Linked DNA regions of Homo sapiens: region 2 is linked to region 1. A link means that fine-mapping ties the variant in region 1 to the expression of a gene that starts in the linked region. Tissue or cell type: B cells. Region 1 holds a variant in brackets; the other region holds the start of a gene. All regions are shown on one strand. Distances are between the middles of the regions.

The links. PIP is the estimated chance that this variant, and not a neighbour inherited with it, causes the effect.
Region 2: SLEAR starts here. The variant in region 1 is fine-mapped to the expression of SLEAR in B cells (Fairfax 2012, PIP 0.95).

What each region holds. Positions count from the first base shown.
Region 1 is chr8:101,255,963-101,261,227 of GRCh38, reverse strand. LOC107984005 (a long non-coding RNA gene) reads right to left here. Exons shown (of 5, transcript XR_928468.3): 2 at 47-189. Among named protein-coding and RNA genes, the nearest start is that of LINC02844, 4.3 kb to the left of the region's middle. The variant T/A (reference allele first, on the strand shown) is at 3,052.
Region 2 is chr8:101,049,328-101,054,327 of GRCh38, reverse strand. SLEAR (STAT1 regulated ILF2 complex interacting lncRNA) reads right to left here and starts at 2,274. Exons shown (of 3, transcript NR_033962.1): 1 at 1,492-2,274.

The DNA of each region.
Region 1 (5,265 bases):
AACGTCACTTTAAATAATTTGAAACAGACTAGGAATGTTCTTTTACCTTCTGCTTTGATGAAAGTAGATGCCTGTTATGTCCAAGTGAATGTGAATCCATCATTTTCCCTCCGTTTCTTAAATCCTGCAGCTCTAGTGCTCATGCCATCACCATGCAGGAGTCCAAGTGAGATGAGGACTAAGAATTTGCTGTAAGGAAATATGGTATGAGCAGAAACAGGGGTAATGGTTGAAAATATGCAACTGAGGACAGAATGTACCTAGGAGACAGTGGTTGACTCTCCAGCAATGCCACTGAGGCTGCTAATAGAGGTGCTGTGTGCTCCCCCGTTTTTATGCTCATCTCCTGGAGGACAGAGGCATGCAGAGCCAAGGGAACAGAGAGAAGACATAGCAGTTCCAGCATCCAAGACAGGGTCACGATGGATGTATTGTCCTTCCTGGTTCCCAGTGTAAAGCCACTCACAATGGCCATGTTTGAACACTGTATGTGCCAGGTGCAGGGCTGAGAGTTTAATATCATTATCTCATTATTAAGTCCCCACAATGGTTTTGAGAATGTCATTTATCACCATTTTGTAGATGAGGAAACTGAGGTTTAGAAGCTGACCCACAGTCATAAATCCACTAAACTGGCATGGTTCCCAGATCCCTTCACCAGGAAGCTACAAGGTCTCACATCACCTGGGCAGTGTCCCACCAGCACATCCTGCTTTGTCCCACAGGAGTGACATGAGAGTGTGGCAGGTGTGTTCAGAGCCACAGGCCCACAGCCCAGTCAGGCTGTTCTTGTGTTGACTGACAGCCTTGGGACTTGGTCACCTGAGCCCCAGTCTGGGAGGAGACAGGAAACCAGCTGGTAGTTGAGGAAGACTTATGAGCAGTTTTCAAAGTACCCTAATAGATGCTAGAAAGAGAGAAAACTATTTGACTCTGGTGTGTATGACTCACATTTTGAATTTTTAGTAGCATAAAAATGGATTATATTTATAATTAAATGAGGGGTTTTTTGGTATTTGGATTTAAAAAACAAGGGGCAAAAAGGAGAAAAATTGGTCTTTACTGGGCAAACAACTAGGTAATAATTAACTACTATTAAGAATCAAGTAGGAATCTTAATATCTTTTCAGTTTTTATAAACCAAGGAATTTTGATGGGGATGAGGTGATGAACCCCATCTCTAGTCCTTTCTTTAGTGAGGATCGCTTGTGATGAGTTAGGATATGCATAGAGGGGAGAAAGGAAATTGAGGGGTAACATATTGGGATATCATTGTTTCTCAGTTACTTATTTCTTCACCTTCAGCTGCTATCATGGAGCTGGGACTGAGTCATTCTAGAAAGGGCACACATTTACCTTCCATACTTATATATTTAGAGCGTCTATTATCTAACTTTGCCTGCTAGTATTGTTAACTAGGTACATATCTGACACCCCCACTATTTCATACTTCCACATTTCAACTTAAACCAGTAATGATAAAAGTGAGGATCTGAAATCTGACCTGAGTTCAAATGCTGACTGCATATGACCTTGGATAAATTAGTTCAATTCTATGAGCCTCAGTTTTCTCTTCTGTAAAATGGGGATTATAACAGTCCATTCCTCAAAGGCTTGTGAAGTTTAATAAGCATGATGTATATATAGTTCTTAGTGCAATGCCCGGCACATAGGAAGCACTTAATGATACTTGTTCCATTCTTAAGGAAAAGGCTGTGCTTTGTAATGAAGAAAAAGTTAACTATTTGTAAAGTAGTTTCATGCAAATTATCTTGATCCTAATACAGAGCTCAGCAACTAGAAGTCAGGCTGCTTGGGAAAACTTGGCATTCTGTTACAATGATGGTGGAATAGTAATTGAGAAATCTTTTAGGAAGGCAATAGGGTAACAGAAATCAAAGACATAACTTTTGACCCTGCAGGACATGTACACAAAGATGCATATGTAAAAGTTCATCATAATCTTGTTCATAATATTGAAATTTTGGAAACAACCTAAATGTCCAACAATATGAGATTAGTTTATAAATATGGGTACATCCACACAGTATGTATGAGGACTCTTCTTGTTGCAAGTAACAGTATCATATCGGATGTAGCTTAAGCCACAAGAGGGAATAATTGACTTAATCAAGAGAGGTAGACCTAGCTCAGATGCCCCTGTTCTGTAAACCCTTCTCTGACCCACCAGGCAGGATAAATTACTCCTCTGTGCTGCCAGAGTATGACCTTTATGTATCTTTCTATCCCCAATGCCTAGAGCAGTGTCTAGTCCAAGCTAGGAGCTTAGCAAATGAATGAATGAATCAGCCAATGAATCAATAACTTTATGTGAGAGGCCAGAAGGAAGCAATGTGGTCTAGTGGAAACAGATGTGGAGGCAGGTAGTCCTCAGTGCAGAACCTACCTTTACTGCTTACTAGCTGTGGTTACCTTAGGAAAGTCACTCAACCAACCTGAGCCTCAGGTTCTGCTTTGTAAAATGATAGTCATGGTAGCCACCTTTTCCAATAACTGCAGAGGATTGAAGAAACCACTTATCTTTAATTTAAAAAATACTGATATATCTTTCTAATTATCAAAGTAATAATTAAATTGCACCTTTTTTTTTTTTTTTTGGAGATGGAGTCTCGCTCTGTCACCCAGGCTGGAGTGCATGATCTCCGTTCACTGCAAGCTTCACCTCCCAGGTTCAGGCCATTCTCCTGCCTCAGCCTCCTCAGTAGCTAAGACTGGGACTACAGGCGTCTGCCACCGCGACTGGCTTTTTTTTTTTTTTTTTTTTTTTTTGTATTTTTAGTAGAGACAGGGTTTCACTATGTTAGCCAGGATGGTCTTGATCTCCTGACCTAGTGATCTGCCTGCCTCGGCCTCCCAAAGTGCTGGGATTACAGGTGTGAGCCACTGCGCCAGGCCTTAAATAGCATCTTTTGACGCTTTTTATGCAACTTGAAGATTTTAGCCTGCTTTTACTCCCCAGATTTCTCCTTTACTCACTTCCAGGTCTGTATGAATATAAGCAAGGTTTCTAGATATTTCTTAAGGTAGCAT[T/A]CAGTCATTCATTTATTCAACCCATATTTACCCCCTCTACCAACTAGGCACTATACATGTTCTGAGCGCTCACAAAGATGGGCAGATAAATGTAAAGAACAAGACTATGTGGAAAGTGCTGCCAAAGAGGTGTGGCTTAAAAGCATACTATAGAAACACAGAGGAAGGAGCTGCAGCTCCAGGAAAGCTGGAGGAGGTCAGTTCTTCCCAATAATCACTGATACATGAATCTTGAAGTTGCTAAAGAAGACATGGGGTTTTTCTTAAGTAAGCAGGACTGCGCAGAGATGCTTGACTTCTAGTTACAGCATGCAGTGGTAACAACAGCAGAGAAGAGGTCTCTTTGATGGAATGTCCACACTTCTGGTATCTTCCTAAGAGGGAACAGTGACAGGACTGACCCATTGTACGGGGGAAGCCCTCTGGGGCTCTGGAATATCATGAAAGATGAGCTGGTGGGACAAAATTTGGTCTTCCTGCTAATGGAGGCATGAGGGGCCTCAGGTGGTGGATCTTAGGATACCACTCAGGGAGTTCATTGTACCCAACCAGAAAGAGTAAGAGTCGTTGGTTACACTAGGAAACTATTCTTGGCTGGGTGCAGTGGCTCACGCCTATAATCCCAGCACTTTGGGAGGCTGAGGCGGGTGGATCACCTGAGGTCAGGAGTTTCAGACCAGCCTGGCCAATGTGGTGAAACCCTGTCTCTACTAAAAATACAAAAATTAGCTGGGCATGGTGGCAGGCGCCTGTAATCCCAGCTACTCGGGAGGCTGAAGCAGGAGAATCACTTGAACCTGGGAGGCAGAGGTTGCAGGGAGCCGAGTCGCACTATTGCACTCCAGCCTGGGTGACAAGAGCAAAACTCCATCTAAAAAAATAAAATAAATAAAAATATTATTTAAAAAATAAAGAAAACTATTCTTGTCCTGTAGGGGTGAACTGTCACTCCCATTTCCCTGAATTTTCAGGGTCAAATTGCAAGCAAGGGTGAAGGCAGTGTCAGCTGGTAGGTGTGTCTGAGGCTTCCACTCCAGTTTCATTATTTTGAGCTTGGATGCCTGTTGTCTTCTAGTATCTTCAAGTTTCAAACTCCCAGACTCCTGAAGCCTCAGGGTTATTTGTCTTGGTAACCAACACATGAGCATTCTTGCTCCCACCACCTGTTCAGGCAAGGTAAGGAAGCAACTAGGCTTTAAACATATGACGCCCGGCTCCAGGTGCCCATCCTGATGTCCCAGTATACTTCTTATTTTCTGGTTTCCTACTGTCTTGGATCTACAGCTAATTCTTTATTTAAGCTGCTAACACCCTTCCCTCTGTTATTCTATGAGCTTCCAGTCAGAATGATAAGAACCTCAAGCTGCTTCACTGGTGTAGGGCCCGTGAATGAAGGGAGAGGGAGGTGCATTTTGAGCTGAATTACACTTCTGCCAGCATACTCCAGAACTTTTCCTATTAACTGAGCTCTGTCTACCATTCCATCTCAATCTCACAGCCTTTCACCATGTACTGGGCAAACAGAACAGGCAAAGATTTATTTTGGGGCATCTTAGCCTATCTCTACATTTCTATCGTCTTGGGATTCTCTATATCATCTCTTGCAGGATGCTCTGAGAACACAACTTGTGCAGAAACAAAACCAGAAAACACTCCAGAGGAACATATGGTGGGCACACTGGAAGTACTTCCCCAAGATGCTAATAATGGCAGCTTAGCTCTACAAAGCTTGTTAGCAAAAGCATTTGTAATTCCTGACATATTGTTTAAACATTTAAAAATCCATATATTGAAATTTAAAAATAATAGAAAGATGAAGAATATGCACATTCCCCCTAATTTTCAAGACTTCATATTTTAAGTCTTAGTTACCAAAAGAGAACTGAAGGAAGCAAAGATCTTGGTTTTATTCCTCTGCTTGACTACTCTTTTTATAAGTTTCACTTTTTCCAAACCACCTGTCTTTTGTTTCTAAATCTTCCTTCTGTTTAGTTTTTCCTTTGCCATCCCTTCTTTTGTAAGATTTCAGTTCACAGTCAAAACGAGGAGGTGGCCAAGTTGGAAGTCAATTGCAGGCTGCTGACGCCACACTCTGTGGAGGGTGTCTCTGTGCCATCCATGGATGAGTCAAGCATCCTTGTAGGTCATCACCTGAGCTAACCTGTGGATGCATGTATCTATTTACTTCCTTCTGCATGGCAACAAAATACTGTC
Region 2 (5,000 bases), 210 kb after region 1:
AATTACCTTATAATTTGGCAGCTTAAAACAGTTAACATTTTATTATCTCACAAAGTTGGGATTTGGGAAGTGGCTTAGCTGGCAGGCTGTGGTGCAGGATCTCTCACTAGGCTGTGCTCAAAATGTTGACGGGGGCCAGGCACAGTGGCTCATGCCTGTAATCTCAGCACTTTGGGAGGCCAAGGAGGGTGGATCACTTTAAGACAGGAGTTCGAGACCAGCCTGGCCAACATGATGAAACATGTTGAAACATGTTCTGTATTTTTAGAACATGTTTAAATACATGAACTTAAACAGGTATTTAAACAGAAATACAGAAATTAGCCAGGCATGGTGACACATGCCTGTAATCCCAGCTACTCGGGAGGCTGAAACAGGAGAACTGCTTGAACCCGGGAGGCGGAGGTTGCAGTGAGACAAGATCATGCCACTGCACTCCAGCCTGGGCAACAGAGCAAGGCTCCATCTCAAAAAAAAAAAAAAAAGACTGGGCTGTAGTCATCTGAAGGCTGGACTGGGACAGGAGTTCCCAATCCTAGGTGGTTTTTTCGTATGACTGTCCATTGCTGGTTGCTGGCAGGAGGCCTTAGTTCCTCACCATAAGAGCCTCTCCCTAGGGCTATTCGAGTGTCCTCATAGTATGGTATCTGGCTTCCCCCAGAATGATTGATCCAAGAGAAAGAGCAAGAAAGAAGCCACATTCTGTTTAAAAGAAGCAACTTCTTAAGTCTAGCCCATACTGTAGAGGAGAATTCAGCTCCATCTCTTGAAGGGAGGAGTATCAAATAATGCATGGACTTATTTTAAAGCCACCAAAGGGAACAAAGGAAGCCAGAGTTCCTAAACTTTCTTTCTCCACTGTCCTGACTCCCCAAGTGTGATGGATGACTATGGATCCAGTTATTGGCAAGACTAAAATTGAGATTCAGACATTATCAGGAAAGATTTGGAATCTAAACACAAAAGAGCGCAGGCAAAACTGTGTCACTTCTGGGATGGAGCCCTCGAGTGAATCCAGACGTTTCCTCCAAACTCAGGGAACCAGCATGAAAGAGAAAGAAGAAGCCAGACATACGCCCTGTTAGCTAGCGTCTGAGGAGTTTCCTTAAGCAGGATGATAGAATCGAGGAGGGATGGGCAGGCCCTGAGAGGCAGGCAGCATCAGAGAGGCCCAGCCACAGGGGCTGGCAGGGGCAAGAAAGCAGTCTTGGGGTCTGGGGCCCTTGGGTGCAGAGCTGGATGACTCAATAGGTAGCTGAAATACGGATTTGGAGACCCAGCCCAGCAGGCATCTCCCACAAAACTGAAAAATGTTTGGCTTCAGTGAGAACTGAACTGAAATTTTACAATCTAGATATCTCAAGTGAAATCATTTTAATCTCAGCATCTATATCAGTTTTGTGTTTTAAGTGTTAGTATCATTTTTATTTTGAATTACATAATGGCAGGGCAGAGGGAGGATGGCAGAAGGGTCTGTAAAGCCGAACTTACCAACTCGTATGTCCCAGCATCCTGGTGGCCTGTTCACAGGCAGGGCTCTCACCTGCAGCCATGTAGCCACTACTCTGCACAAAGCAGCTAGCAGGAGGGGCATGTGGGAGCTGAAAGCAGTCTGTGTCCTGACCACCAAGCCTGGCATCCAGCTTGTGAAAATACGGCACATTTTTATTATTCCTAGTTTCTGCTAGCTGATGGTTCTGCTAATGAGTTATAGATGAGTTGAGATGTGGAGCTCTCTAGCTCTTGGGAGGCCAGGCAGGTGAGAGAAGCTGGAGCCCCCAGGCCAGATTCCGCCTGCTGGGAGAAGCTTTGCCCAGAGACCAACTCAAAGAAAATAAAAATGGATGGAGGCCCAAACCCAGCCATAAGCAGGCAGCTCACCACACAACAAACAGCAATACCCTACCTTGTGCAGGGTTGGGCAGTGCTGTACATCCCATCAAGGACTCCTTACAGGTCCTCTGCTTATTGACCCCAAGTCTGGGTAGTATGGGCTCCCAGGCTAACCAAGGGGGCATAGGAGCAGTGCCAGAGGAGAGCGAGGAGATGGGCAGCCTACACCGAGAGCCTGCCCTCCCAGAGGGGTGCACTGGGAAAGCTGGCTCAGCCAGTCCCTCCAGAGTTCCAGCAGCTCCACTCTCCCCAACCTGGTGGCCCAGCCCCACAAAGGGGCTATCCCTGAGACCCTCCTCTGAAATGCCCCTCCCTTCGAAGAGCTCCATCCAGTTGGAGGGGCTGTGAGCTGGAGTGGAGCAGCATAAAGATGAAGGATATGAGGCCAGATCCCTCCCCCACTAAATACAGCCTGAATCTGATCGTCACAGGTTGTGCTGGACAGCTTTATTTGCCCACAGGATTGGAAGTTAGAGGCCCATGGACTGGATTACGCTAAAGGAAGTGACATATGCAAATGAGTCACATGCCAGGCTGCTGCGACCAGACTGACAGCTTTATCATGCAGTACCCCGTATCTCTCAGGGCCTGTTTACAGAAAGGTCTGGAGTCTTCTCTTGTCTTTTGGCAACGATCCAGCTTGCTCAGGCATGACTTCTCATGGAAATTCGGTTTGACTTTAAAAATGCTCCTTGTGGTGGTAACTTAGCAGCCAAGACCGGCTCTGCGCTGAATTATTGAACGGTGCGGATGTTTGCCTTCCCCTGTCACAGCCCCTCTTCTCTGTAGCTCCTTTTCCTGACAAGTAATTTTAAATATGCAGCAGTGCAAGTCTCTGTGCTCACTTGGCCTAATGCTAAGCCAGATTCCAGTCGTGCTTGAACAACTGCCAAGACACCCAGGGCAGCAGGCCTTGCTCCAGGGGCCTGGGGACTACAGATTTGGGCAAGTGGATATTTTGATGACGGTGATCTCCAAGCTATTGTTCTGAAGGGATCATATCTTAAGGTATCTAAAACCAAAATCATTCGTTAACACCCAGCTGGCTCCTTCACCTGTTTTCTCTATTTTCACCACTGGTGTCACAATCTGTTCAGCTGCCCAAGCCCCTGCCTTGGCCTCACCCTTAACCCTGCAACATGTGCACAGTCTCCAAGTTTTGTCTATTGCGCCTCTAAGATATTAATCAGTTACATTCAATCCTCCCTATCCTCACTATCCCTGACTTGTTGAAGTTGATATCATCTCCCCTAGACTCTTAACATGCCCTTCCAATCAAGCTCCCCTTCTCCAATCCTTTGGCCACAATGATCTACTCATATCCATATTATTGTCCAGCTTTCATTGGTTTTATTAACTTGAGGATCAAGTCTAAACTCTTTAGCATGTTAGTCACAGACAGGTATCAAATGAGCAAAACTACAATATCCTTGATCTTAAAGCAAGGATGAGGGAGAGAATCAGCCAAGCAAACAATCATTGCCCCATATTTTTAATATAAGTTTTATCACTTGCAATTCCATGACCTTGGCCAAGTCACTTAACCTATAAACTGAGATTATCAACAGGAATGACGATTAATATTAGACACAATATAATTTATTCTATATATTCTAAATAATCTAATTTCTTATAAAATACTTCTATTTCACACCGTACTTTAAAACTGGAAAACTTATTTCACTTTCAAAATATTCAACCATGGAAACTGCAAAGCAATTATATGAGTTCACTAGTGTCTAATATCTTTATTCTTAAAAAAGAAAATGGTCATTTTTAATTAGAACAAAAAATCAAAGTTTAATTCCCATTTTTAAAAGAGCAAAATATTTTTAATTACAACTAATTTCAAGGATCTTTACGTGTTGTACAATCAAAGTTACTTACTCTTACAGATTTTCACATTTGACATGCAAAATGAAAAACTTAAATTACATTATTTACCTATAAAAATAATAATAACGGGGATTAAATGAGATAACATATATAAGTAACATAGTTTCCGTATCAGGTGTCTAGAAAGTACCAGAAATGCTCACCTCTGTAACTGTTGCTGCTGTTCAAACCCTGGCTTCCCTCCCTTCCATTGTCATCTCTTGACTACCTGGAATATCCTAGGCAACCACACCCATTCTCAAATCACGTCCTACCACCGCATATGTTTGTGTCTTTGCATAGCCATTCCCCTACCTGGAATTGCCTTTATCTCCTTGTCTAGCTAGTAAATTGCTACTCATTCCTAAAGGGCCATCTCAAATGTTGCCCTCCCTGGAATGTCTCTAGTGCTCCCATCTTCACATTTTCATAGCTTTTGCACATAACTTTATTGTAACTTTTGCCTTGAAATATTTATTCTTGGGGCCGGGCGTGGCGGCTGACACCTGTAATCCCAGCACTTTGGGAGGCTGAGGTGGGCGGATCATGAGGTCAAGAGATCGAGACCATACTTGCTAACATGGTGAAACCCCATCTCTACTAAAAAACAAAAAAATTAGCCGGGCATGGTGGTGGGCACCTGTAGTCCCAGCTGCTCAGGAGACTGAGGCAGGAGAATGGTGTGAACCCGGGAGGCAGAGCTTGCAGTGAGCTGAGATTTTTCCACTGCACTCCAGCCTGGGTGACAGAGCCAGGCCCTGTCTCAAAAAAGAAAGAGACCAGCCATGGTGGCTCACGCCTGTAATCCCAGTACTTTCAGAGGCCAAGGTGGGCAAATCACCTGAGGTCAGGAGTCCAAGACTAGCCTGGCCAACATGGCGAAACCCTATCCCTTCTGAAAATACAAAAATTAGCCAGGCTTGGTGGCACATGCCTATAATCCTAGCTACTCAGGAGGCTGAGGCAGGAGAATCGCTTGAACCCAGGAGGCAGAGGTTGTAGTGAGCTGAGATGGTGCCATTGCACTCCAGCCTAGGCAACAGAGCAAGACTCCAAAAGAAAAAAAGAGAAAGAGAGAGAGAGGGAGGGAGGGAGGGAGGGAGGAAGGAAGGAAGGAAGGAAGGAAGGAAAGAAGGAAGGAAGAAAGGAAGGAGAAAGAAAAGAAAGAAAGAAGGAAGGAAGGAAAGAAAGAAAGAAAAAGAAAGAAAGGAAAGAAAGCAAGAGAGAGAAAG